Linked DNA regions of Homo sapiens. The protein of the gene in region 4 interacts with the protein of the main gene of each other region in a pairwise test. Each region holds a gene or a part of one and is shown on either strand. Other genes may lie near its edges. The genes, in order: SHC3, KCTD9, FLYWCH1, PPP1R16B, HUNK, IKZF3 and ZNF410.

The links.
Region 1: the proteins of PPP1R16B (region 4) and SHC3 interact in binary tests that used the Homo sapiens proteins (3 or more experiments, as listed by UniProt).
Region 2: the proteins of PPP1R16B (region 4) and KCTD9 interact in binary tests that used the Homo sapiens proteins (3 or more experiments, as listed by UniProt).
Region 3: the proteins of PPP1R16B (region 4) and FLYWCH1 interact in binary tests that used the Homo sapiens proteins (3 or more experiments, as listed by UniProt).
Region 5: the proteins of PPP1R16B (region 4) and HUNK interact in a two-hybrid assay, tested with the Homo sapiens proteins (one large-scale study listed by BioGRID and IntAct).
Region 6: the proteins of PPP1R16B (region 4) and IKZF3 interact in binary tests that used the Homo sapiens proteins (3 or more experiments, as listed by UniProt).
Region 7: the proteins of PPP1R16B (region 4) and ZNF410 interact in binary tests that used the Homo sapiens proteins (3 or more experiments, as listed by UniProt).

Annotation. Positions count from the first base shown.
Region 1 is NC_000009.12:89,038,983-89,043,328, forward strand, and holds part of SHC3 (SHC-transforming protein 3), read right to left. Parts: intron 3,203-4,346; coding exon 3,044-3,202; intron 1-3,043. UniProt on the Homo sapiens protein: Signaling adapter that couples activated growth factor receptors to signaling pathway in neurons. Involved in the signal transduction pathways of neurotrophin-activated Trk receptors in cortical neurons.
Region 2 is NC_000008.11:25,448,262-25,452,607, forward strand, and holds part of KCTD9 (BTB/POZ domain-containing protein KCTD9), read right to left. Parts: intron 2,221-4,346; exon of another isoform or gene 2,119-2,220; intron 1,410-2,118; exon of another isoform or gene 1,262-1,409; intron 1-1,261. UniProt on the Homo sapiens protein: Substrate-specific adapter of a BCR (BTB-CUL3-RBX1) E3 ubiquitin-protein ligase complex, which mediates the ubiquitination of target proteins, leading to their degradation by the proteasome.
Region 3 is NC_000016.10:2,938,928-2,943,273, reverse strand, and holds part of FLYWCH1 (FLYWCH-type zinc finger-containing protein 1), read right to left. Parts: exon of another isoform or gene 3,294-4,346; intron 3,243-3,293; coding exon 3,182-3,242; coding exon of another isoform or gene 3,178-3,181; exon of another isoform or gene 3,113-3,177; intron 1-3,112. UniProt on the Homo sapiens protein: Transcription cofactor. Negatively regulates transcription activation by catenin beta-1 CTNNB1, perhaps acting by competing with TCF4 for CTNNB1 binding. May play a role in DNA-damage response signaling.
Region 4 is NC_000020.11:38,808,067-38,812,412, forward strand, and holds part of PPP1R16B (protein phosphatase 1 regulatory inhibitor subunit 16B isoform 1 precursor), read left to right. Parts: intron 1-4,346. UniProt on the Homo sapiens protein: Regulator of protein phosphatase 1 (PP1) that acts as a positive regulator of pulmonary endothelial cell (EC) barrier function. Involved in the regulation of the PI3K/AKT signaling pathway, angiogenesis and endothelial cell proliferation.
Region 5 is NC_000021.9:31,878,999-31,883,344, reverse strand, and holds part of HUNK (hormonally up-regulated neu tumor-associated kinase), read right to left. Parts: intron 1-4,346.
Region 6 is NC_000017.11:39,762,822-39,767,167, forward strand, and holds part of IKZF3 (zinc finger protein Aiolos), read right to left. Parts: intron 3,673-4,346; coding exon 2,969-3,672; 3' UTR 1-2,968. UniProt on the Homo sapiens protein: Transcription factor that plays an important role in the regulation of lymphocyte differentiation. Plays an essential role in regulation of B-cell differentiation, proliferation and maturation to an effector state.
Region 7 is NC_000014.9:73,928,137-73,932,482, forward strand, and holds part of ZNF410 (zinc finger protein 410), read left to right. Parts: intron 1-3,366; coding exon 3,367-3,405; 3' UTR 3,406-4,296; coding exon of another isoform or gene 4,297-4,342; 3' UTR 4,343-4,346. UniProt on the Homo sapiens protein: Transcription factor that binds to the sequence motif 5'-CATCCCATAATA-3', and is specifically required to silence expression of fetal hemoglobin in adult erythroid cells.

The DNA.
Region 1 (4,346 bases), on a different chromosome or scaffold from region 4:
GACTGCTGCTCTAACAAGAAATACCAGCAGCAAAAGAAGTAGCCAGGCATGTCTAACTAAATCCCGATGTTCGATTTTCACATAAGGTAGTGTGTATGAAAGGACTCTGAAAAATGCACAGTGCTATGCAAGTGGAAGGTAGTGCGATGGTTATTTCAGACTACGCTGTCTACCCATAAGCATACACATACATACAACATAAGCAGCACAAGAACAGGAGTGGTTCTTTCCTGAGCATAACTACACCCTCAGAGCCCAGCATTGCTCCTAGCACACAGTTCATTCAGTATAGTCAACAGATGCTGTAAAATAAGCCAAACTTGTTCGATGTTAGTACAGCGTGGGCAGAAGTGAGGTGAGTAAATGAAACTAAAATTAGCTCTTTTTGATGCTTATTAATCTTTGACAGATTTGGAGATAAAAATAAGTTAGAACCATTGGCAAAAATTATGTCTGTGGAAGTTCTTTTTCATCTGACTTTTTTCCTGATTACCTGGAATTGTCATTTGTTTTATACTGTTTCTACATCATTACCACCTTTGCTATCATCTACATCATCAACATCGTCAGCATCATCCCCAACATCGCCACCATCCCCACATTCACTTTTATTGGCACCACCACCACCATCAGCATCACCGCCATCGTCGCCATCGTCATCACCATTATCACCATCATCCCCATTGTTACCATCATAACCATCATCATCACCATCATTGTCACCACCATCACTGTCACTACCAGCAACAGCAGCAGCAGCAATAGCATCACCACCATCAACACTATCATCACTATCCCCTCACCATTATCACCACCACCATTACCATCAGCATCATCAGGATCATCACCATTATCACCATCATCCCCATTGTCATCATCATCATCATCACCATCATTGTCACCAGCATAACCATCATCATCACCATCACTGTCACCAGCAGCAACAGGAGCGGCAGCAGTAACAGCAGCAGCAGTAGCATCACCACCATCAGCACCATCAGCACTATCACCATCACCATTGCCACCACCACCACCACCACCATCGGCATCACCACCATCTCACCACCATTATCACCATCACCACCACCACCTTTGCCACCAGCACCATCATCAGCATCATCACCACCATCATCACCACCACCAGCACCATCAGCAGCAGCATCACCACCATCATCATCACCATCATCATCACTATCAACACCACCACCATCAGCAGCATCATCACCATCATCATCATCACCACCACCATCACCACCACCACCACCATCAAAATTACCATCAGCAGCAGCACCATCATCACCACCATCATCACATCAGCACCGCTATATTTAGATCTACTGGTTCAAAATAAAGAACACAGAGTGCTGGCTTTATTTAGTTCCATACTTTTCAATAGGCACCAGCCTTTCTAAGGCTCTTTTCACATCCTGTTTCCCCTCCTTAGGTTTTGAAAGCAGGAGGAGAAATTAACTGGTGGGAAAAGGGTAGCTCTGGTTCTCATTTTTTCATCCCAAACACCAGCCAATCTAACTTTCCTTAGGGTCCGTGTCCAGGAGTCATTGGTAAATTGACTATATTAAACAGTAAAAATGGTCTAACCAGACATGGAACTATTAAACTGCAGTTTGGAGGTACTATAACAACTCCAGCAAAAGCTTGGAGAGCCACCACTGTGCTTTGCATCTTGAAAAAGTGGCTTCACATTTCTCAAGCTGTTTTCACATTTTTAAAAATAAAGGCACTGGCGGGACTGAATTAGGTGATCTAGCATTGAAGGTGGCTTCAAGCATTAAGATTCTACAGTTCTTGCTTAGATTATTTTTGTTAAGTCAAAATGGGGGTCCAGTGTGTCTGGGAAGTCAAATTTGCTGGAGAGAAACAGTGTTGTTTTCATGAGGCTGCCTAATTATAAAGGCACTTAACACTGTCCTCACTCATACAAAATACCACAAATCACAGATATTGGACCAGCAAGGCTGCCTTTCACAAATGATAAAGTTAGTTAACTTCTAGGATTCTTCGTTTCCTTCTCTGTAAAATAAAGATAACAGTAGTTATCGTAATACCTACCTGTAAAAATTTAAAAATAAGTGTTTAGCACATGGTAGAAAATCATTCAGAACTAGTCTCCATTCCCTCCCTCTTCAGCCTATAAAATTCTCGAGGAATATGAAAAGCAAATTTAGCTCTTGTGAGCTTGTGATGCTCTTTCAAAATTTTTTAACAAAAATTTTCACTTTCATTAATCAGTTCATGAACGATTTAATTTCCTCAGTCTATATGACAAACAGAAAGTCTGTGGTACACATCCCACTATAATGCTATCTGCAATAGATTCCTATTACTCTCCTTATCCTGTTTAGTTTTCATAACTGAGGAGCATGTACCACTACCTGGTAATAGATACCTCCACGAGGTAGAGACTTTGCTGGTTTTGTTTTCCTGTATATCTCCATCAAGTAGAATAGTATTTGACAAATGGTAAGTGTTCAGTAAATATTTGGAGTGAGGTAAAAGGTGAGCAAGAGAGAAAAAAGGAGAGAAAAAAATGAGAGCACAAGTGGGAGGAGAGGAGAAAGAGAGAGAAAACCCTCATAAGAGAGAGGTGTGTTGCAATTTCTTGCCTATATGTTAAATGTTGGTCTGCTTCATAGACCTAGAGATCCGTGGAAACACGGGCCATGCCATTTCATCTTTGCATCCTTAGCAACTAATACAGTAGCTGGCACATAATAGCCAATTACTATTTAAATGAATAAATAAACATTTGTGTATGTATATTGTCTCAATACATTTGCAGATCTTCAAGAGGAACGTCAATTCCAAAAAGAGGGGGAAATTGCTCTGTCTCTTGACTACAGAGAGGGCTATAATCCTAAAGCCTTAAACAAACCCAATCATCACCCAGAAAAGTACAGCTAATCATCACCATTAACCAAAACCCTACTATCAGAAAATTCAGTAATTACACAGATTTCAAATAAAAGGCAGGATAAAAAGCAACCTCAAAAGAAAAGAAAACCAGAGACAAACAGAAACCCACTCATGTCAAAGAGGTCTTTCCTTGGGCTGCTCTCAGCACTGCTGACCGCAGCCGGCCAGGCCTGTGGTGGGATCTGCTGAGTGTTGACGTAGGTGGGTGCTTCTCCCGTGGGGGCCACGTGCAGTTTCCCTTCTGGCGTGCTGTAGATGTCCGAGGACCCTGCAACAAGAAAGTGAGCCCCTTTTCTTTTACGATGGTGACACTATTCAAGCCACCCAGCCTTTCACAAAGAAGCTCTTCTGCCTGCAAATGGGAAACCTCCTCCTTCGGATTCCTATGGGTGATATTCTCCTCTTCTGAGCTTGTCACCACACACTGCTGTGACCCAGCTAGGATGTTTTCCAGTCCTTCATATCAGCATGGGGTCTGCCAGCCAATGTCAGGGTGGACACCTTGATGGCTCCACTGTGATGGCCTTAGCAAAAATTTTGGCCCTTGCTGCCCCAAGACCGCAGGAGCCTGGCAGGCAGAACATGCCTGACCTCCTCTCCTTGACAAATGCTCCAAGATCAAATAACTGAGCAGAAGGACCACAAGCCTTATATTAATTGCTCTTGTTTTCTTTTTAAATATAAGCAAATGCTTTATAAATTAACTTCATTCAAGCAATACAATAGAAGCTCTGTACCTCCTAAGGAACTGAGAGAGACTCCTTCCTTATAAAATAGGGCTGCAGTTACTGCCCCTGGGTCTGTGAAGGAAGCCCAGGGTGGGTGTGCAAGTGAAGAGCCCCCTCTGCTGAGGCAGTGATGCTGCCTCGATGTGACTTCACAGCTAGCCAATGGGTGTGCTGAGGCTAGGCCAAGGCTGTTCTGTCACCGAGACCTAGTGTGAAAGACCTAGTGCCTTGACAGGACTTCACAGCTAGCCAGTGGGTGTGCTGAGGCTGGGCCCGGGCTGTTCTGTCACCCAGACCCTGGGTGAAAGTGACACCCAGACCTAGTTGCCGGAGAACGCCTGTTCAGATCCTTCTCGGAGTCTTTTTGTGTGTGCGCCCTGTCTCCAATCTTCTTACGTAAACATGTTCGCAAGAACACCCTGTGGTATTCACATTTCTGGAAAGAGGGTGTCTTTCATACCCTATGGGCGGTGGTGTGTTGAAGCCAGCTCAATCCAGCTGGCAGGAGTTGGTTCAGGGCTTTTTAAAAAGCGTTCCCAAGAGCCTGTGGCTGGACATTTGCCAGCACACCACTGTCTCCCAGGCTGTAGGTGTGAGAATGAAGTGTCGTGCTAACATTCCCTCGCTGGGGAGCACCACCTGCAACATCATGGACTGTGTTTCTACTCTCCTATTTCTCAACAT
Region 2 (4,346 bases), on a different chromosome or scaffold from region 4:
GCTAAATGAAATAAGCCAGTCACAAAAGGATAAATATTCTATGATACCACTCACATGAAAGTACCCAACACAGGCAAATTCATAGAGAAAGAAAGCAGAATAAAGGTTACCAAGGCATAGATGGGAATGGAGACTTATTTCTTAATGGTTACAATTTCTGTTTGGGATGATGACCAAGTACTGGAAATAAACCGTGGTGATGGTTACACACATTGTGAATGTAAACAATGTCAATGAATTACACATTTAAAAAATGGTTAAAATAATAAATTTTGTTCCATCTTTTATCACAATAAAAAAAATACTGCAAAGCACTTGGCACAGTGTCCTACACACAGCAGGCTTGCCATAAATAATTAAAGCCTGAGTAGGGCTGGGCGCGGTGGCTCACGCCTGTAAAATCTGCACTATGGGAGGCTGAGGCGGATGGATTGCTTAAGCTCAGGAGTTCGAGACCAGCTTGGGCAACACAGTGAAACCCCATCTCTACTAAAATACAAAAAATTAGCCGGGCGTGGTGGCGTGTGCCTGTAGTCCCAGCTACTTGGGAGGCTGAGGCAGGAGAATTGCTTCAACCCGGGAGGCAGAGGTTGCAGTTAGCTGAGATCACACCACCACACTCCAGCCTGGGCGACAAAGTGAGACTCCTTCTCCAAGAAAAAAAAAAAGAAAAAAAAGCCTGACTAAAACATGTCCCCCATATTTCCTATGATTGTTCACCTCTGCAACACAGTGAGGTATTCTGTAATTGCATTATACACATTCCTGGGACAAAGCGAAGCGAAATACAGTACCTAGGGCATTGCACACGGCAAAGCTGGGGTTGTGTTAAGGCAAAGAGCATGAAGAGAGTAAAGACAGAGAAGAGAGAAGCAAACATGCAAAGGAGCAAGAGATTGACCAAAGCAGATGCAAAACAACTCCTGCAGTCAGAAGGTGCTGTGAAAAGAGGGTAAGAAGCACAAGCACCTCTTTCCCAATTCAATGTTCTTGGCATAGTTGCCATCATACAAAGAATTTTCTAAATCTTTCTTTTCCCTCTTATTTACCTCTGGCTCTTACATCTCAGTATGGCTTTCTTTTGCCTGATATCCCCTCCTTGCCCTAACATCAACTTTCTCTCTCAGCATCTCTTTCACTGTTCTCTCTTGGCCATACCAAAAAATAGATGCAAGTTGAATGCACCTGCCTGTATTATGCTTAATACTTAATGTAATATTATAGCTTAAGATCTTATATGACTTATTCAAAATACACTAACTTGAATTGTCGTCTACTTCCATATGATTGACTTGGTTTTTCTGTGGGTCTATTGTCTTCCGATGAAAATAAAGGCCACCTGCCATGTTTTAAAGCTGTGCTGTCCAGTGTGGAAGCCACTAGCTTCATGAGTCTATTTAAATTTTAATCTATTAAAATTAAAAGTTAAAATGCAGTTCAGTCACACTAGCCACATTTCAAGTGCTCAACTGCCACACTGGCTAATTGTTACCATATTGAATAGCACAAATTTCCATCATCTCAGTAGTTCTATTAGACAGTGCCATTTTAAAGAGCAGAAAAAAAAAAATGAAGAAAAAAAAACACAACTATTTTAATTCTATTAGGCTTTCCCATGACATAGGAACCCAAAGTAACAAACTGATGAAATACAACTCAAGACCTGTTTGTTGTTTTATTTAGAGGGTTGGGATGTTGCCATCTTCTGTTTCTTCCCCACTGAAGTCAAATGTGACCAGATGATAGAAAAAAACCACACATACTGCTTGGCAAGGACTATTTTCAAGGCAATCAAAGTACAACAGGTATTTCCTTGTAGGCTGTAAAACTACTAAGGAGCACAGTCTAGGTATAAATTGAATTCAACTTTTATTGCCACTTAAATCAATCCTAATAAGGTATCAAAAACAATTTACCGTATCACTAAATATTTTCTAATCTGGCTGTCTGCCTGGATCCTAAAGGTCCAATAAAAAAAATTAATTTGCAAAAAGTTGTTATGAATTCTGTGAATAGAGGTGACCAATTATCCCTTGGTAAAGCTGATAAGCAGCACTAAAGAAGTACATTCCTGAGCTGTTCTACTAATAACCGCCATAGGTTCAAATGGTACATTACCTGGCTTACAGCAGGTCTTTGACAAATATTTCTTGAATGTTGAGTGTTGAAGTAGGACACACCTTTTTTGTGTGACAGTCATATTCATTTAAGTCTCTTACACTGTCATTAGGGTAAAAAAATACACAGTATAAATGCAATTCTAAAGCAGTCTGGGCATGGTGGCTCAAGCCTGTAATGCCGGCACTTTTTGGGAGGCCAAGGTGGGTGGATCACCTGAGGTCAGGAGTTCAAGACCAGCCTGGCCAACATGGTAAAACCGTGCCACCACGCCCAGCTAATTTTTGTATTTTTAGTAGAGACGGGGTTTCACCATGTTGGCCAGGAGGGTGTCAATCTCTTGACCTCGTGATCCAACCGCCTCAGCCTCCCAAGTGCTGGGATTACAGGCATGAGCCACCACACCCTGCTAAGTTTTTTGCTTTATTTTGTTTGTTTTCCAAATTTGTTACAATGAACCTATATTACTTTTGTAATAAGGGGGGAAGTTTTAATTTATTTTAAGGTCTCCATAGCTCCAGATACTAGTTCTATAAATAAAATTATTTTAGCAGTTTGCAATCAGGCAGTTAACAATTTCCTTTAAGTGAAATAACCAAAGGGTGGTCAATTAGAGAAAACAGAATTAAAATTAATACGAAGAATCTTATAGTTCTAGAAATTTGAAAATTTCCCTTAAGTTGGGCCAATATACTTGTTTTCACTTGGAGGGCTATTCTTGACGTTTGTTTTCCAACTAATCATTCGCACATACTAACAATACCATACAAATAAAAAGGAGTTATGTTGCAATACTAATATTCAAATATGCAAAAACTCTGTATTTTAAACTAATTAGAAACCAGGTTTTAAAATATATATATCAACATAAATTTGTCATACATATGGAAAAGATGATTAAGTTACGGAGAAAGTTGCAAACAGACTGGCACATGCATTCTTCTTTATATAACTCTTTTGAGAAAGAGGAGCAATAAAAATCTTGTATATCATGGACATAAGCTCCAGTTAGTATATACTAAGATTGTTTTTGTCCTCATACTGAGCCAAATAAATCATAAAATGATAGTGCTTACAAAGGTCATTTACTTTGTATGTGTTATCTCCACCATGTGGCCTGATGTTTCCATGTCACTGGGATTATCTACCTTAACAACTTAGGCCCTAAGAATAGAAGCATTTTACATTTATTGAGAAGCATGTCTATTAAAGTTCATGATGTCTGTATTATACTACTTTTCAGAGTCAATTATTTTTAAATTTCAGATCCCATGACAAGTGAAAGCTGCCTATGAGTTGGAGAGTAAATGGAACACCATGCCTAGTACGATTGGCTAGTTTTAATTTACCTTTAAACACCATTTTCAAATTGTAACCTGTATTATTTAAATTTAAAAATTAAAACCTGCACATGCATGTAAAATATTTTTTTCTTTTATACCCACAAGATTTATTACATAATACACAATAAATACACAAGTATTTGTGTATTTGAATTCAACTTTTATTGCCACTTTAATCAATCCTAATAAAGTATCAAAAACAATTTACCATATCACTAAATATTTTCTAATCTGGCTGTCTGCCTGGATCCTAAAGGTCCAATAAAAAAATTAATTTGCAAAAAGTTGTTATGATAAATACACAAGTATTTATTGTGCATTATGTAATATACAATACACATAAATTGTTGAATTTATGCAGGCTGATTTACCCAACAAAACCACTAATCACCACTAGTAACTAAATACAGAACTCAATTTTCTCTACCTATACTTTTAGTCAAATACATTTTAAATATTTACATGATCTTATTCTTTAAAAGATGAGATAATTTAAAAAAAAGATGAGATAATTAACTCTAAGGTGAAAAAAGAAAATTTTAAAATGGAAAATACTGGTAATATCAAGTGTTGGAGTGGATGTGGACCAATAGGGAAGATTTATGCAATGGTGGTGGGAATATAAATTACTGCAATGACTTTGAAAAACAATCTGGCATTATTTTGCAAAACTGAATATTTACATATTCTAACACCCAATAATTACAACTATGTGTCTATACCTTAGAGTGGTGGTTCTCAAATGTGTGATCCTGTCACCTGCAGCATCTGAACCACATTTCACCTGCAAATTAAAAATGTACATTCCTACCCCACCCCAGACCTACTGAATATTAATCTTTGGGGATGAAGTCCAGCAGTTTTCTCAAGTCCTCCTCCTCCTCC
Region 3 (4,346 bases), on a different chromosome or scaffold from region 4:
AATCCTCCAGCCTCGAGCTGTGACATGTGCAAAGTGTTCTCTACCAGGGAAGCCTGCCTGAGCCCAGGAGTCCAGGGTTTTCACTGGGGGTTGCTCATGTAGGTACGTTGTGCCTGCGTGACTGAATATGGTCACCGAAATGCCAGGCTCAGAAGAAAAGCAAGTGTTCAGCAAATATCACATGATTTGTATAGAAAAGAGTGAGCAGTTGTTATTTGGGGATAGTATTGTATCCACATAGGAGCTCTTTACCAGTCAAGTTCCCAGATGCCAGCTGGGCGTGGTGGCTCATGCCTGTAATCCCAGCACTTTAGGAGTCCGAGGCGGGTGGATCACTTGAGGTCGGGAGTTCGTGACCAGCCTAGCCAACATAGCGAAACCCCGTCTCCACTAAAAATACAAAAATTAGCTGAGCGTGGTGGTGCGCACTTCTAATCCCAGCTACCTGGGATCACTCACAGTGATCTTGCAGTGAGCCAAGATCACACCACTGCACTCCAGCCTGGGCGACAGAGTGAGACTCCGTCTCAAAAAAAAAAAAAAAAAAAAAAAAGTTCCCAGATGCCAGCCAAGGGTGAACCTTGCACACAGGCTGTTCTTAGGGCAGCAGTCTCAGGCCTGCTGTGTTACATTAATTGGTTTTGCATGTTGATGCATTCCTGGGATAAATCTTACTTGGTCATGGTATATAATCCTTTTTTATGTTGCTGGATTCTGTTTGCTGGTATTCTACGTTCCTAAGAAATACTGGTCTGTAGTTTTCTCTTTGTGATTCCTTTGCTTGGTTTTGATATCAGGGTGATACTGGTCTTAGAGAATGAGCTGGGGCCAAGCATTGCGGCTCATGCTTGTAATGCCAGCACTTTGGGAGGCCAAGGCAGGTGGACTGATTGAGCCCAGGAGTTGGAGACCAGCCTGGACAACATGGGAAAACCCCGTTTCTACTAAAAATAGAAAAATTAGCCAGGCGTGGTGGTGCGTGCATGTAGTCCCAGCTACTCAGGAGGGTGAGGTTCAAGTGAGCTGAGATGGCACCACTGCACTCCAGCCTGGGTGTCAGAATGAGACTCTGCCAGAATGAGGTCCATAGTAAGGTCTCATCTTTATTCCTGATTTTAGTATTTTCAGTATTCTTGCTTTTCAATTTTTTTGATCTGTAGATAGAGCTAAATATTTGTCAATTTTATTGATCCTTATACAGAACCAACTTTTGGTTTCATTTATTATTTATTTCCTTCCTTCTGCTTCAGTTTTTTTTTTTTTTTTTTTTTTTTTTTTGAGATGAGTCTTGCTCTGTCGCCCAGGCTGGAGTGCAGTGGCGCAATCTCGACTCACTGCAACCTCCACCTCCTGGGTTCAAGCAATTCTCCTGCTACAGGCTCCCACCACCACGCCTGGCTAATTTTTCTATCTTTAGTAGAGATGGGGTTTCACCATGTTGGTCAGGCTGGTCTTGAACCCGTGGTCTCGTGATCTACCTCCCTCGGTCTCCCAGTGTGCTGGGATTACAGGTGTGAGCCACCACGCCCAGACTTTTAGTTCTTTTTTTTTTAGTTTTTCTATTTTTTGTGGAGATGAGGTCTTGCCCATGCTAGTATGGAACTCCTGGGCTCAAGCGATCCTCCCACCCTAGCCACCCAAAATGCTAGGATTACAGGTGTGAGCCACCATGCTTGGCCCTGTTTATTCATTTAGAGATGGGATCTTGCTCTGTCTCCCAGGCTGGAGTGCAGTGGTACAATCATGCTTCACTGCAGCCTCAATCTCCCAGGTTCAAGCGATACTACCAGCACATGCTACCATGACTGGCTGAGTTTTTGGCAGAGACGAGGTCTCACCATGTTGCCCAGGCTTCTTCCTTTTTAATAGAAGTGTTTTTAGCTATAGATTTCCCTCTAAGCACGGCTTTCAGTGCATCCCATAAGTTTTATTTCAAAGTATTTTATAATTATCTTCTTTGGCTCATTGTTTTGTTTGTTTTAAATTACACACAGGGTCATGCTCTGTTGCCCCAACTGGTTTCAAACTCCTGGGCTCAAGTGATCCTCCTGCCTCTGCCTCCCAGAGTGTTGAGATTACAGGCGTGAGCCACCATGCCCAGTCTGACTCACTGGTTTCTTATAAGTGTGTTCTTTAATTTCTACGTATTTCTGAGTTTCCCAAATTTCTCTGTTTTTGATTTGGTTTTTGTTTGTCACCTAGGCTGGAGTGCAGTGGCACAATCTTGGCTCACTGCAACCTCTGCCTCCCGAATAGCTTGGATTACATGCATGTACCACCATGCCTGACTAATTTTTGTATTTTTAGTAGAGATGGGGTTTCACCATGTTGGCCAGGCTGGTCTCGAACTCCTGACCTCAAATGATCTGCCTGCCTTGGCCTCCCAAAGTGCTGGAATTACAAATGATCTGCCTGCCTTGGCCTCCCAAAGTGCTGGAATTACAGGTATGAGCCACTGTATCCAGCCGTGAAAGGACTGAAATGATACAAAGTATGTTCTTTGACCATAGTGGGATGTAATTACAAACCAATAACAAGGCTGGGCACAGTGGCTCTTGCCTGTAATCCCAGCACTCGGGAGACCCGAGACAGGAGGATCATTTGAGGTCAGAAGTTTGAGACTCAGCCTGGCCACCATGATAAAACCCTATCTCTACTGCAAATACAAAAATCAGCTCGGTGTGGTGGTACATGCCTGTAATCCCAGCTACTCAGGGGGCTGAGACAGGAGAATTGCTTGAACCCGGAAGGTAGAGTTTGCAGTGAGCTGAGATCATGCCGCTGTACTCCAGCCTGGGCCACACACAGACTCCATCTCAAAAAATAAAATAATGGACTCTTGCTTTATGGCCTGGCTGTGGTTGAGAAGAACCTGAATTCTGCTGCTGGCAGCTTCCCTCTTGTTCTCTCTCTGTCCCATGGCTGTCATGTGAAGGATGCTCAAGTGGGCCCAAGGAGGGGTCCCTATGGTGAGGAGCAGGGCCTCCAGCCTCACTTGGGCCTTCAGATGACTGCCACCCTGGCTGACAAATTCTCTTCAACCTCAGGAGTCAGAACCACCCAGCCCAACCACTCCCATAATGTTGACCCACAAAAGCTGAGACAGCAAATATTTGTTGTTTTAAGCCCACTACGTTTTGTTGTAATTGGTCATGCACCATTAGATAACAAATACAATTACCCATAAATCTGCTGGCTTTCAGGAGAACACGTCTTGAAGCACAGCTGAACTTGAATCTTTTCTGTGGAAAAATAATTGAAAATATGAATTAATAATTCTTCTCTTGTTGAAGCTGACAGAACCAAGGACACACACCTTGTTAACGACGCCCTCAAGGCTGTGAGGAGAAAGACAACCGGGTGAAGCAACGCTGGGAATTCAACGCATCAATTACCTTCCCAGGTAACAGCAGCTACTTGAGCTCCTAAGAGTTGACCTTCAGCTGCTGTCATGGAAAATAGTGGGGGTCAACTAGACATCAAAGATGAAAGGCCAGGCCTCCAGCACAACTTTCTCTGTAAGCTCGATAGTGGCTTTCTCAAAGAAATCCTTTTCTCAAAAAAATTTCTTGTAAAGACAGGGTCTTGTTCTGTCACCCAGGCTGGACTGCAGTGCATGGCTCACTGCAGCCTCAACCTCCCGGGCTAGAGTGATCCTCCCCTTTTCTGAGGAGCTCAGACCACAAGCGTGCACCACTGTGCCCAGCTGATTTATAAACTTTTTTTTTAGAGACAGGGTTTCACCATGTTGGCCAGGCTGTTTTCTTTCAAGGTTTCACCATGTTGGCCAGGCTGTTTTCTTTTCTTCTCTTTTTTTGAGATGGAGTTTCACTCTTGTTGCCCAGGCTGGAGGGCAGTGGCGCGATCTTGGCTCACTGCAACCTCCGCCTCCCAGGTTCAAGTGATTCTCCTGCCTCCCAAGCAGCTGGGATTACAGCGTAGCTGGGATTACAGGCATGCGTCACCATGTCCAGCTAATTTTGTATTTTTAGTAGAGACGGGGTTTCTCCATGTTGATCAGGATGGTCTCGAACTCCTGACCTCAGGTGATCCGCCTGCCTCAGCCTCCCAAAGTGCTGGGATTACAGGCGTGAGCCACTGTGCCTGGCCAACTTGGATTTGTTACTGTTATACAGGACATGGCCCTTAATATTCACATGAATGACAGTGAGACACACAATGCTTTCTAAAGATTGGTTTTGGCCGGGTGTGGTGGTGCACACCTGTAATCCCAGTTACTCGGGAGGCTGAGGCAGGAGAATCACTTGAACCCAGGAGGCAGAGGTTGCAGTGAGCCAAGATGGCTCCATTGCACTCCAGCCTGGGCAACAAGAGCAAAACTCTGA
Region 4 (4,346 bases):
AGGTGGTTTTTCCTTAAAGCCAGAACCTTTCTCCTTTCTGCAGAGCCCATTTGAGCCCTTTGGAAACTAGGCCTATGTGTGATGGCCTCACAGAATCCTCACAACCCCGTGAAGTAGGCATTACTGATTCCCATTTTGCAGATGGGAAAACTGGGGCTCAGCTCCTCTCAAAACCAGCTCCATGCCCCAAGTGTAGCAACAGAGGCTGCAGCCAACCTGGTTTAGGAGAAGGCAGAAGGCACATACCTGAATTCAGGTGCTGTGCTTGGACTCTTGGGACCCCATCCCCCCAACCTTTCCCTCCCCTCTCCCAACCTAGCCACCACCCCTCCTGCACCCAGGACTCTTGTCACATTTGTTGACCAGGAGGTCCCAACTGGCACTCTTCCAGCAGAGACCAGGAAAACCTTCACTGTCCTGAGTGCATCTTAGCAATTGGGCTTCAAGAAGGGCTCGGACAAGCCTGCCTCTTACAGAAAGCTACGAGTATGAAGAGTGAGGGAGCCAGAGAGGTCTAATTTTAATTAGGGATCTATACCTAAAAGCTCTGTGACCCTGTATACATGACTTAATCTCTCTGAGTCTGGTTTTCTCATTTGTAAAATAGGTATCACAGTAATGCCTACTTTGTGGGATTGTAAGGATTCCATGAGACCATTAACACATAGAAAGTGCTCAGTACTAGGGTGGAGCATAGTGGCTCACACCTGTAATCCCAGCAGTTTGGGAGGCCAAGGCGGGAGGATCACTAGACGTCAGGAGTTCGAGACCAGCTGGCCAACATGGTGAAACCCCATCTCTACTAAAAATACAAAAATTAGTGCAGCATGGTGGCGCATGCCTGTAGTCCTAGCTACTTGGGAGGCTGAGGCACGAGAATTGCTTGAACCCGGGAGCAGGAGGTTGCAATGAGCCGAGATCACATGACTGCACTCCAGCCTGGGTGACAGAGCGAGACTCCATCTCAAAAAGAAAAAGAAAAAAAAAAGTGCTCAGTACAGCATCTGGTGTGGGTAGGAATGCAGGAAATGATCATTGTCACCATCACTACTATTTCCTCCTTTGTGTTGGACTCTCAAAGGTCCCACCTCCTCCAGTGCTAGGGTGGGGAGTGAGTGCGACCCTGTCTCTTCTGCCTGTAGCCATCAGGACGGGGAAAGCCTCTCAGCCTGTCTCCTGGGGCGGGGGTGGGGGCTCACTCCTGGGAACTTGAGTCTAGCACCAGCTTTTCCCCGGGGAGTCTGTGAGCAGCCACTTAGCCTTTCTCAGCTGACTGCCATTTTCCAGGATTCATTGATTCATTCAAAAGACGTTTATTCCATCCCAGCCCTTGTGCTTAGCAAGGGATTTCAAGATGAATGAGGCAGCTCTCAGAGTTCTCCCTCTATGGGGAGAGGCAGGCCTGGAGACAGATAATGAGGACACTGTGGGATAAAGGCTGCAACAGCAAGAAGAGAGAGTGACGAGCAGATCCACATGGCTCAGGCTGACCCAGGTCTGAATCTTGAAGCTGCCACCTTGTAGCTGGGTGAGGATGGACAGAGGCCTTACCTCTCAAGCAGATAAGCCACCTCCCTAAGATGATGATGTGAGGAGAGAAGTGAGACACTGTGGATAAAAAACCTAGCTTGGACCAGGTGCGGTGGCTCATGCCTGTAATCCCAGCAATTTGGGAGGCAGAGGTGGGCAGACTGATTGACTCCAGGAGTTCGAGACTAGCCTGGGCAATATGGCAAAACCCCGTCTCTACAAAAAATACAAAAAATTAGCCAGGCATGGTGGTGTGCACCTGTAGTCCCAGCTACTTGGAAGGCTGAGGTGGGAGAATCACCTGAACGGGGGAAGTGGAGGCTCCTGTGAGCCATGATTGCGTGCACCTCTGCACTCTAGCCTGGGCAACAGAGTAAGACCTTGTTTCGAAAAAAAAAAAAAAAAAAAAACAAAACCAAAAAACTTAAAAACCCAGCTTGGGCTTTCTAGATATTAATAAGTGCTCACAGATGTTCGTTGCTATTATTAGTCTATTATTGCCAATAACAGGTGGGCAAAAGTTGCTGTGGGAGCATGTTGAGCCCTTCAGTGACAGTTTTCCAGGTGGTAGGGCAGCCCTAGCCGGGAGAACAGCATGTGCAGAGGCACCGAGGCTTAAAAGTGCTGGATGTTTTTGGAGAGCAGTGGGAGGAGTTGCTGATGGAGCAGAGTCATGAGAAAGTTTGATGGAGGCAGAAGCAAGGCCAGGGAGGTAGCAGAGGCTATCCTGCCGGGAGCCCCGAAGGATTAAACACTCACTGACCCGAGGCAGTCCCTCTGCACCTTCCTTGGAGGGTGGTTCTCTAGTGAGGGTTGTCCAGGAAACTTCAGGATTAACTTTTGCATGGGAGGAAGGGCTGGTCTCTGCTCAACTATCCATACATTCACCATCCTTCCCTCTTCATTCCACCCAGGAAGCACGAAGAAGAAGAGGTCCACTCCCTCTTCCTGAGATGCTTTTCCCACCTCTGCACTTGTTTCTCTCTTCCTGGGACTCAGTTTCTCACCTGAGAGAAGAGGGTAGAAGTGGAGGAAGCGTCATGACCTGACTCACTGATTGATCATGATATAGCACCAAGTGCATTTCTGGATGCTGGTCACTGTCAAAGGTCTTTACTTGCATCGCCATTGAATTCTCATACCAATCCGTTGAAATGAATGCACTTATCCCCCACTGCACAGAGGGAGAAACCGAGGCACAGAGGGTGAGGCAATTTGCTAAAGGGCATGCAGCTTGTAAGTGACAGGAACTCACGTCTTGGGGGGCATCTCAAAGTTGCCATGTGCTATCCTTCACCACCTTCTTCACACACTTTGTAAATCTAAGGCTGACTGCAGAATATCTGGCCTCTTTTGCTTTGTGTACCTTTGGGCGCTGGGCAGTAGGCATTTTGGAGATGGGTCACAGTGGGGTGTGCTCTGGGTATGTAACCTGACTTTGGGGAAATTCCTGGGTGCAGACGCTTTGTGGGGAGGTGTTCTTGGATGTCTCAGAATCTAGAATGGCATTCCTTCGCCCACAGATGTGCCTTGATGCAGGCAATGTGCAGCTTGATTGATGTGGCAAGATGGTGGCTGAGCCCCACGGTGGCCCCAGGAAGGAATGAATGAATCTTTTAGGATGGCTGATCAGAGCATCACATGACCACAGACCCTCCCTGTTTCAGAGGACATCCAAACACAGGCTTACATTTCCTTTTACATGGGGGCAAAGTTTGGGGCCAGGGTTCAAATGCTGGCTCTGCCTCCACTGGCTTTGGGGCCTAGGGAAATTTTTTCACTTCCTTGAACCTTAATTTCTTCATCTGGAAATAAAGATGAAGAAATAAGTTGCTAATTTTAGCATCTTCAATAAGTTGCTAAATAGTAACTCACAAACACAATTCTGAATTGTCATAAGGATTTGTAATCATATGGAAAATGCTTGGCTTCCAAGCTGTAGATAATATTGATGTAATATCCAGCAGATTTTTCTCTGCAGTACTTATAATTGTGATTATATGGTTATATGTGAGCATTACTCTTTTAGTCTTCTGTTTCATCCACTAGACCTGTGGTTCTCAACTTGGGGCAGTTTGACCCTCCCCAGGGGATATTTGGCAATGTCTAAAGACGTTTTTGGTTGTTACAACTTTTCGGGGGATAGTGGGGGAGAGGAGCTACTGACATCCAGTGAGTAGACACCAGGGGTGCTGCTAAATATCCTGTGGTGCACAGGAGAGCACCCCCACAACAGAAAATGATCTGATCCCAAATATCAATAGTGCTGAGGTTAAGAAAGACTACACTGGACGATGAGCCCCATAAGGTCCGTGACTGTGTCCAATTCATTCAGCTGTGTGTCTCCAGTTGGCCAGCGTGATCAGCATGATGTCCAGCACACAGGAGACAATCAATATGCATTAAAGGAATGAATGAGGACTTGGAAGGCCTTATGTCCCCTGGAGTCCCAGGGGTTTAGCTTGTGGAACATTTTGAATAGGCAGAAGAGATTTAGATGAACTTGAATGATGAACAGCCAATTAGTAACTCAGGCCAAAGACATTCAGACCGAGCTCTCTGTTTTCCTTCCCAAGCAGGTGCTTGGGGGCCCAGATTATCTGAATTGTTCCTGCCATCACCACTGCATTTTACCCATGTAGATACAGGACCCGTCTTTATCTGGAAAGTAGGCTGGGGCAGAGGAGCATAGGTGCTGTCAGCTGGGCCCTTGGGATTTGCCAAGCTGGGGCACAGCTGCTTGTCAGCTTCCTGTTTTGTCCCTTTCTAGTGGAATGAAGGAAACCCACTGAATGGCTATTTTCCACTGACATTTA
Region 5 (4,346 bases), on a different chromosome or scaffold from region 4:
ACCATGTTTAATACACTCGATTGGCAAAGATCAAAATGAGTACCCTGTTGGCTGACATGTGGAAAAGCAAACACTCCCATACCAGATGGGTGTGGTTATAAGTTGGGAACCCTTATAAATTATAAGGGTTATCAATGTGATTATAAATTGCCAACCTCTATGGCAGGCAATTTGGCAATACTTATCAACAGTTAAAATAGACATACCTTTTGGCCTAAGACTAGGAATTTACCCCTCAGATACACTGAGGGGTCACATTTACAAAGTGACAAATGGTCATGGATATTTACTGAAGTATGGTTTGAGAATAACAAAAAAAAAAAAATTATGTACTCCCTAAATGTCCATCAACAAGGGATGGTTAAGTCAACATGATACTTCCACACAATGACTACTATGCAATAACTAATTAACATAAAGAGTGAGGCAATTCTGTAGTAGTCATGGGGAAGAATGCTCAAGACATATTGCTAAGTGAAAAAGCAAGATAATGAACAGCATGTACAGTTTAAAAATACATCTGCCCTGGTGGGTGGGAGGGATGGATGAAGAGAAGCTGGTTCATGGGTACAAACATACATAGATAGAAGAACTAAATTCTAATGTCTGTTAGGGTGACTATACTTAGTAGCAATACTTTGTATATTTCAAGGTAACTAGAACAGAGGACTTGATATAATACCAACCCGTGGAAATGAATACTTAGGTGATGGACACGCCGATACTCTGGCTTGATCATTACACACTCCATGCATGGAACACTCACATGTACCCCATAAATATGTAAAATATTATGTATCAATAAAGAAGAAAAATCTGCCCCTAACTACGCATTTACAAATATGTATGTGGGTCTCTATGCATATAGGGTATCTCTGGAGGGATACACAAGGACTAGAAGGAGGAGTGACCTCTCACGAGAAGATCCAGGAACTGAAGAGCCCAGATAAGAAGCAGTTACCTCTCACTGCAAACCCTCTCAGAACCTTTGAATTTCAGACCATGTGTCTGTATTACCAATTCCAAAACTTAACCAAATGCATCTTGAAAACACAAAGATGATTAAAAACCAAAAAGAACCCAGTGATTAGAAGTTGCATAGCTAGGGCACAGTGGCCACCGTAAGAGTGCTAAGAGGATGTTAACAGATGGCTCTACCCTGAGTAGTTTTTTTTGTCCATGAGAATGTCCCAAACTGTTACTCTACTCATCAAAAATCCAAATTCCCACAACTCCTTCAACAACTTTTCCCACCACTCACGAGTGATGGGGGAGGGGGGGTCTCTTCCCAGGAAAGTGCCACCGTCTCTGAAGTAGGCATGCTGGCCCACAACTTGGCCCAACACTCAGTTGCCCCAGAGTTCTCAGGAAAAAACCCATAGAGCATACATATAAAGTGAGCTTTCAATCTTGTAAGTACTGAGAAACACAACAGAGCCCTGATGATTCTAACCTAAGAGAAATGTGAGGCCAGAAAATCCCCCAGCGTGTGGCACATAGAATCTGCTAATGAGATGCCACGCCGGCTGCTCCCTCATTGCAGGGAGAGAGACCACAGTCGAGCAGCAAGGTAGGGCAGGCTGAAGAGAAGCTGGTTCATGGGTACAAACATACATAGATAGAAGGACTAAATGCTAATGTTTGCTACGGGGACTATATTTAGCAGCAATAATTTGTATATTTCTTTGTTGTTGTTGTTGTTGTTGTTGCTGCTGCTGTTGTTATGGAGTTTTTGCTCTTGTTACCCAGGCTGGAGTGCAGTGGCACAATCTCGGCTCACTGCAACCTCCACCTCCTTGGTTCAAGCGACTCTCCTGCCTCAGCCTCCCGAGTAGCTGGGATTACAGGAACACACACTTGGCTAATTTTTTTGTATTTTTAGTAGAGACAGGGTTTCACCATGTTGGCCAGGCTGGTCTCAAACTCCTGACCTCAGGTGATCTGCCTCCCTCGGCCTCCCAAAGTGCTGGGATTACACGCGTGAGCCACCACGCCTGGCCATACTTTGTATATTTCAAGGTAACGAGATGAGAGGACTTGATACCAACACATGGAAATGATGACCACTCATATCCAAAATGCGCATGGAAAAGATGCCCACGTTGTCTACGGTCCATATGGTATGGACTCAGATGAAAAGCCCTGGACTCTGACCCTGTCTCTTTCAGTAAACAGCAAATGCTGGGCTGCACCCCCAGATTCCCCGTCAGTGCTGAAGAACTGACTGCCTCAGCTGCAGGCTATCAGCTGTGAGCTCTCCCCAGGAACCGCCCTCAGCAACTGTCCCGTACGAGGCCATGCCCCTTGCCTGGGCAGCCCCCATCAAGGACTGGCCGATGCGGAAATATAAATCCCAGTCCTCTCAACCCAAGTTGGTCAGCTCTGAAGGGCCAGCTCAGCTCCAGCACTCACCACGGCATGGGCAGGGGCTTTGGCTGAGAGCGGTATTGGAGCCCAGCTTCTCCCTCTGCCCAGTGCTGCTTTGCCCCTTCCCTTGCAGAGGTCAGTTCTGAGAGTAATCCCTAAAAGCACATTCATCTCCTTCCCAAGATCCGCTTGCCACAACCCAATACTGACAGTCTAAAAAGGTGCTGGAGCTTGAACTATGCTCCCCCAAAAGATACCTTCAAGTCCCGTTGGTACCTGTGGATATGATCTTCTTTGAAAATAGGGACTTTGTAGATGTCATCGAGTTAAAATGAGGCAACACTGGATTAGGGTAGACCTACATCCCATGACTGGTGTCCTTATAAAGAGACATAGGAAAAGATTAAGAGACAGAAGAGACACTCAGAGGGAGGAACACTGTGTGAAGACAGACGCAGAGACAGAGCGCTGCAGTCATAAGCCAGAAAATGCCAAAGAGTGCTGGCCACCACCGGAAGCTAGTAAGAGGCAAGGAAGGATTCTCCCTGTGGCTGCAGAGGGAGCATGGCCCTGCCAACACCTTGGTTTTGGATCCTAGCCTCCAGAACTGTGACAGAATAAATTTCTGTTGTTGAAGCCACACAGTGTGTGGTAATTTGTTAGAACCATCCTAGCAAACTCATAGAGAATGTCAGAGAGAAGATCTACTCAGGGCACCCTTCTACGTAATCAAGGCAGGCAAGAACACCAGCAAGCTGGCTGTTACCCCCTCCACCAGGGCTGCTGCAGGCATCTAACAAGAATGTGCACGGGAGGGGCACCCTGAAAAAAACCGTAAAACACTGTAGCACTGGGCTGGTGCTGGTGATGGAGGAGAGGGAACAGCTGTCTCGAATTCACAGAGGCATCCCCCTCCTCGGGGACTATTCAGTCCCTGTGTTTCTAGCTCTTTCCTGCTGGTCATCGTACCACCCAGTGGCACCTCCTATCAGAAAGCGTGAAATTCAATTCAGGTCAGTACTTAGACCAGGGCTGAGTAGAGAAAGAAGTTTCACCCATCAGCTAACATAAGGCCTGGGGATTATCTACGGGTTTCAATTAGCCAAGAGAGCAGGTCTCTCCGTTACCATAAATAATCGACAGAGGGAATATATGTCCCAAGGCAAATGATAACCCTGTGCCCAAGCCTCCTTCCCATGGAGAACACCCCAACCTGTCCCTCTCTTCGGGGGCACATGGCTGCCACTCCCCACCCCTTCTGGGCAGATAAACCCTGGGACAGATGATTGCCGCGCTGACCTCCAATAGCTGGCAGCATGCAGAATTCTATAGTCTCACAGACCTGAGTCGGATTGGTATGCACGGGTAGCTATAGCCGTGACTCAACACCTGCAGAGAAAATGTAGGGTTGTACTCCTCTCCGTGGGCACCGTTTCTGCACTGTTGCGCTGACTCAAAGCACCCTTTGAAGTCCGTGGGACCTGTATCAATGAACACTAGGAACCAGGCCCTACGTGCCAATTTCCATCATTCACAAGTACTTCAAAAAGATGAGGCAGGGCAGGAAGTTCAAAAGAATCCGCCTGCAACTGCAGAATGCAATCCTCGAAATTACAGGCACTGCCTTGTCACACAGGGCTCACCAAGCAGGTGCTTTGCAAATGCCTCCTTCTTGCCAAGAAGTCCCTGCCAAGGATTAATAGGAATTTCCAGTTCTCTAAGCATTTCTTGTTCCTCAGAGCGATTACCCCTAAACTTCTAGCACTTCAAAAATACAGGATTTAGCACCTGTTTGTTTCAGAAATACTTGCTAAAAACAGATCTGCCAAAAGGCCACCTCTAAAATTAGTCATATTTCTTGCTCTGCAAAACATAGTAAATCGTATTTTTAGTAACTCCTTCACTCCAGGTATCTGGCACTGTCATGCTCTAAGCATGATTACTGGCAACTTAGTAAGCAGGCAACCCTTACTCTTAGC
Region 6 (4,346 bases), on a different chromosome or scaffold from region 4:
GGTTGCCGTGAGCCGAGATCGCGCCACTGCACTCCAGCCTGGGCAACAGAGCGAGAGACTGTCTCAAAACAAAAGAAAACAAAAAAAGTTGGTCTCCTCTGCAAAGACTTGAACACTAATCTGGTGGAAAGGCTTCCTTTCCCTCGTTTTCTCTTCTACTAATCCCTGCTTCCAAATTCTCTTTCTCTTGTCCCTTGAAGAACCAACAGGATGTGCGATATTTCAAGAACGTAATGAGCAACTCCTCTTTCACAAAGGGAATAAGCAATCTGGCATAGCTTGGAGTCTAGTATTACGGAAATACAGTGATATACTGAAGACTACACACCAAAATACATCCATTCCTTTAGCTGAAGTCTCAAACATGTTGGGACTGTTGCCATGGAATTTCATAAAACCTTTTTTCCTGAGACAGACGCCATGCCACAAAGAAGGATAAGCCATTTGTGCAGTCTGAGGTGGAACATTTTAATTACTGGCAGCACATAGACGAGTTGAGTTGGAGCCGAATGCATAAGCCCCTTAGAAATAAAACACTAATCTACCAGGAATTTGGGATTCTTGGCTCTGGTAGAAATGTTACAAATTAAGCTGACTCTTAATTTGTAAATAGGCTCCATGAAGTTGTCCCTGGAAGCAGAATTTATTTTCCCTAACATAATTTCTTAAAAAGTAAAAAAAAAAAGAAGGCTTTGGCAAACAGCTGCATGTGCCAATTTGTGTGTATGCTTTGTGGCAAGATCAAAATACCTTTCTGTTTTTTGTTCCTCTCCACCACCTTCTTCACATTCACAACTCAGTGGTTAAAGGAAAAACTTAACACACCATTTTCATACCAAAGGAATGTGAAACATGTATTCATATAAATACTCTTCTGCTTAATATCCATACATTAGGAGGTTTAAAAAATACCTTGTGGTTACTGCATAATCACATATGAATTAAAGCTAGAAGGGACCTAAGAGAACATTGAAATCTAATTCCTATTTTATGGATGAGGAAACTGAGTTTTTTTTGTTTTTGTTTGTTTGTTTTTGTTTTGTTTTGTTTGAGACAGGGTCTCACTCTGTCGCCCAGACTGGAGTGCAGTAGTGTGATCTCCACTCACCGCAACCTCAACCTCCCAGGCTTAAGCGATTTTTCTGCCTCAGCCTCCGGAGTAGCTGGGATTACAGGCATGTGCCACTACTGCCCAGCTAATTTTTGTATTTTTAGTAGAGACAGGGTTTCACCATGTGGGTCAGGCTGGTCTCGAACTCCTGACCTCAAATGATGCGCCTGCCTCGGCTTCCCAAAGTGTTGGGATTACAGGTGTGAGCCACCGAGCCTGGCCGGAAACTGAGTTTTAAGAGTTAAATAAGGCTGGGTGTGGTGGCTCACACCTGTAATCCCAGCACTTTAGGAGGCTGAGGCGGGCTGATTGCTTGAGCCCAGGAGTTCAAGACCAGCATGGGCAACATAGTGAGACCCCTATCTCTACAAAAAGAACAAAATGTAGCCAGACATGGTGGTGTGCACTTGTTGTCCCAGTACTCAAGAGGCTGAGGTGGGAGGATCACCTGAGCCTGGGGAGGTCGAGGCTGCACTGAGCCATGATTGCACCACTGCACTCCAGCCTGGGCAACAGAGTGAGATCCTGTCTCAAAAAAAAAAAAAAAAAAAAAGTTAAACGATTTCTCAAAGTCACATAGCTAATTAGCCAGCATTTTGTGACCTCCTATTCCAGTGCTAATTTTACCATGATAACAGCACTCCTCCTGATAGTATGTACATATTATGAGTGACAAGGATGACTTATACATCTGCAGAACCGTGATCAGACTTTCAGGAATTTTCATGGAATACAGCAGTTCCATTTAAATGGGAAAAAAAGGGCCGAAGCCTGCCTGATCAAGGAGAACCTCTCAATAGAGGTGTCCCTCCTCACCCCATTCCGGAGCTCAACTCCGATCTAAACACACATGCCATCTATCTCCAATTCCTCTCCTGTGGGGAGGGGGAGGCTGAGCCATACTTTTTGGACTTTTTTTGTGGAAAATATCATTGGCAAATTTGCTTTGGGTCTGTATCACCAATTCTCCATGAACTCTTTCAAGAAGTTTTAGGTAGCTGTTTTTTGTTTGTTTGTTTTCTGTTGGTGCTGCCAAACAATTTCCCCCTTTATACCCTTGCTCTGCCAACCTTGACCAAAGGAAAGCGATGTCATCATCCACAGTGGATAAATTTCTGGAGTTTCGATGATGGTCTATATTTAAAACCATGAGTTCTTCTGGCATAGATTTTCTTCTATAGACAACTGGTTTAGCCCAAAGCAGCTCAGCTTTTCACTGGAGATGGGAAGGTAAAGGACAGAAGCAGAAGTGCCATCAGATGACATTTTTTAAAAATGTTGTGATAGGAAATGGATCTGATGCTTGGAGAATGGGGTCTTCAGTTACTCGTAACAGATACTTATTTTATGGCTGTTCTTTTACTTACTCTTAGACTGTCATTTAGATTAGGGAGATTAGATCTTAACCCTTCAGCCTGTGAAGGGCAGAAGGGTGAGGCTTCCCAGCAAGGTCAGCTGGTCAGCTCTTCCTCTTTGTGGATTTGCATGTATGACTGAAAGGCTTTTCCACGTGTGGTTGATATATCTCAGAAAGAATGTTTCATATAGCACATCTCCGGGACCACTCATTCCACTGCTGTAGAAGATAATGACCAAATACCTTTTTGGCTTTTAAATTCCATAAAATTCAAGTCCCTGATGGGAAAACAAAGGTTTCACAAAAGTAATAATATGCTAGACCTGCGAATAATTTCTGAAGGAAGACAGTGTTTCCCTGGCTACCCCTGTGAACACAGCTAAAAATGGTATGAAAAGAAGTTTGGAACTGAGTATGTTTTGAGAGCAATCTGTTAGGCGAGGTCATTGGTTTTTAGAAACGATGCTGAATACATAGGAGCAATCCCTGAGACCAGATATTCACTTCAGCAGGGCTCTGTGTTCTCCTCTGGCTATGTGAGACGAGAACTCATACCGATCATGGCTTCGATATCCACACATGTTACACTCGAAAGGGTCACGGAAGCCGTGGCAGCCCATGTGAATCGTGAACATCACATAGTCCAGGAAGAGGACGCGGCAGTGGTCACACCGATACACATCCATCACCTCCCCTTCCTTGTTGATCACTTTGACGGAGTCTCTTGGGCAGATGGGCGGGGGCTTGAGGAGTTCGTAAGAGCGGGGAACCTCCTTCAGAAGTGGCATCCCATTGCGGGCCCGAGACAGGACCATGTGATTTTGCTGATAGATGTGATTCTGGCGTTCTTCATGGTTGCTGTCAGTGTCCGTGGAGTCGTGGCCACTATTGTTGGGAGAGAGGCCTCTCTCAGAAGGCACGCTCTTCTCTGGAAGGTGGATGCTTTTCTTTTCCAGCTCTTGAGGGGCACCGTTTGACATCTCAGCCCGGGTGAGGGCTATGGGATACATGCTGCTGATAACTGGAACCATCTCCGAGGTGGGAGCAGGCGGTGTCTGGACCAAGGGGCGCAGGGCTTCGGCGCCAAGATAGCTGATGGCGTTATTGATGGCTTGGTCCATCATGCGGGTCTGTATGAGCTCACTCTCTTTCTCATACATGTAACTTGAATTATAGTTGACATCAAAGCAGTGGCGCTTCTCACCTGGAACAAGTGACAGAAAGGGTTACAAAGGGAACACTGCCAAGGCAGAGAGTTTGTAAATATTTTCTAGAGACCTCAAAAAGGGAGGAGAGTTAAGTTGCCTGCTGCTCAAGAAGACCAAGCCTGGCAGAATGGTTTCCCATGGTGCTGTCTCAGGGGACACTGGTCGGCAGCAACGTGTTTGGATGGTTAAAATAAAGCCAGCAGGCAGAAGAGAGGGGCAGAGATGTGGTTCAGTTGAGGCCACATGGTAAGGTATGCCCACTGTGCATGTTAGAGGAGAGCCCTCAAGAAAGGAGGGAAAGAAGCAGGACACTAGGATGGGGCTAGAGGGACAAGGGAGCCACCAGCCCACAGGAGCCTGGGACTTCTGCTATAGTTCATGATCTCTTAAGACACAGTCGGCTCCCAACTCTTATTTTGCTTTTGCTTGTTATTTTCTGCTTGCAATATTAGGTAGCCAGGGGGACAGAAGTGCTGCAAAGAGTGGGGACACTCGGTGCCTCACCTCGGCAGCTTTTTAAATAGCTACAGAGATAGAGAAAATAGCCCCCCAGACTCCAACTGGCTACTCCCCAAACTCACCCGTCCTGGCTGACTGAGACTGAAGTGAAAGAGCTTCAAATGTAGAAAGTTTGAGAAAAGTTTTCTTGAGAAGAGATCATGGTCTTTGT
Region 7 (4,346 bases), on a different chromosome or scaffold from region 4:
CCTAAACTGGCAGTTTTTAAGTGTAGTACGTTCCAGTCTTGGGAGAAGTCAGAGAATATGTTTTAGAGTTTAAGTTGAGATGGGAGGGATGAATAGACATCATCTTGATGGAGAAGTAGGAGTTGGAAGAATATAACAGGCAGAAGGACAGCAGTGTGTACAAAGGTAGAAGGTAAGGGAGTAGAGGGCCTCTGTGGAACTGTAAATAGGGTTGAGTGTGATGGGACATGGGATGAAGAGATGGGCTGGAGAGGAAAATTGAGAGCTGGAAAGATAAGCTAGTCTCTTGAAAGGTCTTACAAGGCATGATTTTATCCTGGGGGCACTGAAGAACCACTGCATGGTTTGAAGTAGGGTATGACGTGATCAGATTTGTGTATTCAGAATATCCAGTAATAGTACATTTGTTCCCTAGAACCTAGGCACAAGTCTTGGAATTGGCCTCAGAGCATCCATGTATAATAGGTGCTGCCCACTTACAGCCTCAGGGAGACAGCATAACACAGGCTGCCTAAAAAACGAAAGACCTGGGTGTGGTGGATCATGTCTATAATCCCAGCACTTTTGGAAGCTAAGGTGGGAGGATCACTTGAGGCCAGAAGTTCGAGACAAGCCTGGACAACAGAGCAAGATCCTGTCTCTACAAAAAGTTTTTTAAAAAATTATCCAGGCATAGTGGTGCATACCTGTAGTCCCAGCTACTCCAGAGGCTGAGGCAGGAGGATCAACTTGAGCCCAGGAGTTCGAGGCTGCAGTGAACTATGATTGTCCCACTGCACTCCAGCCTGGGAGAGATCCTATCCCAAAAATCAAACAAAAAAAGGAAGTATGGTCTTCACTCCAGGAAGGCACAAAACCCAGTTTCATAATGGAAGCCCAAAACACTTAGAAAAATATTAACAACACAAAAGGGAAAGTGCTGTCCTGGATGTAGCTCAAAATCCTGCACTGTCACTTTTTCCTCATGGGTTTTTGTATATTTACAAACATACCCTCTGTCTGAGCCTCACTTCTTTTGTGTTTTCTTCACTTTTAGCATTATTCTCCTCCTCGTATCACAGGCATTTCCACTGCTTATCCCCTCCTTTTCTTTCTTCACTAGTTTGGGTCCTCCAATACCTTCAGTTTTTTTTCAAGCTGTGAGGCCCTCAGGGTTCCAGGCTTAGGCCTCTTCCTCATCCAAGGTCTAGGTAATAACTTGCTATTTCTCCAGTGAGTGAGGAATGTTGATTCCTTAAGAACTTTCAGGTGCCAGAGAAGGTGAAGGCTATTTGCAACACATGTCCGTTTCACCTTTTTTGGAGATCACCAAGCAGTATGGATCAAAGTCTACTGATGAACTTGTACTTCCTGTAAATATGCTCTAAAAATAAAAATAGCTTATCAAGAATATCAGAGAACAACCAAATCTGTTATCAGAAATTTTCATGAGAGGCTGGGTGCGGTGGCTAGCACTTTGGGAGGCTGGGGTGGGAGGATCAATTGAGCTTAGGAGTTTGAGACCAGCCTGGGCAACACAGGAAAACCCCATGTCTACAAAAAATAAAATAAAATTAGCTGGTCCTAGCTACTTGGGAGGCTGAGGTGAGAGGATCACTTGGGCCCAGGAAGTTGAGGCTGTAGTGAGCCATGATCTTGCCACTACACTGCAGTCTGGGTGACAGAGCCAAACTCTTTAAAAAAAAAAAAGAAGAAAAATTACCATGGGAAAAATATCAGAAACTACAAGTCACCTCTCTGGTTCAGGTGGACAATCTCTATTTTCCCTCATTATTGTGCCACATCTGAGAATTAGATGGAGGACTCATTGCACAGGCCCAACTGGGAACCCCAGGGCTTTTGGGCTGTCATACTTACTAAAGGTCATTCTAAATGGGGCTCCATATTTACATTGAGTTCACATTCTTGAACTCAAGAACCAGTATAAGAGATTCCCAGCTAGTTTTGACTACCTCTTAGAATGCTTTCCAAATCAAGGCACAAATAGAAATTACAAATTCTATAATATTTCTCATAAAGTACCTTTGCTAAGTTTGACTGCAAAGATCTGGATCTTGGCCTCCATTAAAAACACACTATTCTTAACTTTCCTGCCACACAGCATCAAATGGAATATGTGGTTTCTTTAAGGTTTAATTTTTTCTTTAGATTTTGTTTAAAAGTCTTTAAATTCCATATAATTAAACTCTTAAAAAAAAGTTTTTTTGGTGGATACAGTGTCTTACCATGTTGCCCAGGCTGATCTCAAATTTCTGGCCTCAAGCAATCCTCCTCCCTCAGCCTCCCAAAGTGGTGGGGTTATAGGCATGAGCCATGGTGCCCAGCCCAATCATTAAATTCTACTGTATAAATTACCTTCATCCAAATTAGGATCACCAAGTAAATACATCTCAAGCTGAAGAATTTATTTGATTAGATTTTAATAAGTTGTTTTTGTTCTGAATTTTACTGAATTGTTCCCATCTCATTTTTGTGTGTCTGAAAACAGTCTCAGTCTGTCACTCAGGCTGGAGTGCAGTGCAGTGGCATGATCATAGCTCACTGCACCCTTGAACTCCTGGGCTCAAGTGATCCTCCTCCCTCAGCCTCCCAAGTAGCTAGGACTGCAAGCATGTACCACCATGCTTAATTTTTAAAATTTTCTTGTAGAGACAGGGCCTCACTGTGTTGCCCAAGTGGGTCTCAAATTTCTGGTCTCAAGCAGTTCTCCTGCCTCAGCCTCCCAAAGTGCTGGGATTACAGATGTGAGCCACTGCACCCAGCCTCATTTTGTTTTTATATTAAAATGGAAGCCAATTTCATTATTTCAAAACTCCTTTGAATAGAGCCTTGTGTATAGAGTAGAATGTTAGTGGTAGTTGCCATTATGCAGGAGTCCCTTAGGCTTATCATTCTTTTAAGCCCAAGGAACCCCTAGATCTTTTATGAGTGGGTTTCAGCTCTCATATAGTACTTATAAAGGAACAGCTCCTCTTCCTATTTCCTTCTCCTACTTGAGCCTTCAGCCTATCCTTTGGCTGACACGTATAAGATTTTGGTTCCACCATTTCTGTTTTCCCTGTAAGTTAGAGATTCCTCTGTCACTGACTGATGAGTAGGTAACTACACAAACAATAGTTTGGCTTATAGACTCAGAATATTTGATTGCCAGAGTTAAAATGCCAGCCTTATGACATGGCTAAAGTGCTGTCCCAAGGCCACAGTGACATCTATCAGTCCGTGCATGTGTTTGCTTTGGAAGTAGATAGCCTTCATTCACCCCTGTAGTGCATTCTCCATCCTCCACTCTTAATACTTTTTACTATGAATTATTTTTTCTATAATTCAACTGTAACCTATTCTAGATTTGCTTTCAATCTTTTACAGTTACTAAACCAAGGAGATTTAACTGAAAGACGGACATGAGCGTGGGTGCTGACTCCTGGAAGAGCAACTCTATCTGATCTCAAAATGCGTATACTGGGAACAGGATGCCTTAGCCCACAACAGAACCAGAATGAATCTTTGAAGGCACAAGACTCTGCTTTTGCCACTCTTCCTCTTTCCTGGTATAGAAGATGGATGTAGGAGAGCTTCTTTTCTAACTACCATCTGATCAGACAAGGAATGAAGCAATGACTGTGGGCTGGGAAACTGTACCTACCTCTCTTCCCACTGCAAATTTCTGGGATAGACCAAAAGTGAATTTGATTATGTGTTGGCTGAAGTTCTTCATTCTGACTGTTGAGGGGAGGTTTTCCTTTGAAGAGTTTTCATCCCAGACTCAGCTGTCTTTTCACATGGATGAAATAATTCCTGCTACCAACAACAGAGCTTCACCAGGAAGTTGAGTTTTCAAGATGCCTTGTTGCTTTGAAGAAGGGAGTGATGTCAATTCTCTTGTTACATTCTCCCTTTAGCAACCTGAGTAAGAGACTCTCTGCCACTGGGCTGCAAAAAAATAAATTACTTGAATCTCCCCTTGGCCCAGGCTGAGGTACTATCTTGTCCTATACACTTCTACTTGGTCACTTTGCTTTCTTCGTTAATGGAACATACAGTAGCATGTTAAGAGGGATTTCATGTTTTTGTTTTTTTAAAGTTAAAAATTACATGATGCAGAGATTCAGGTTTTCCTTTAAATAAACAAAACAGCCCAGTCAGTTCTTTGGCTCTTGTTTTATACAAAATTTGTTTTCTTAGAGATTAAGAATTTAATCTTTCCCTTTAAAATAGTGTATTGATTTACCCTTAGGATTCCATACCAGTAAAACTGAACCGAGGAGTCTTAGGAAACAACAAGAACATCTTCATTTCTTAAGCCCAGGTGATAGTTACTCTGTCACCACCAAAAAAGACGCATCTGA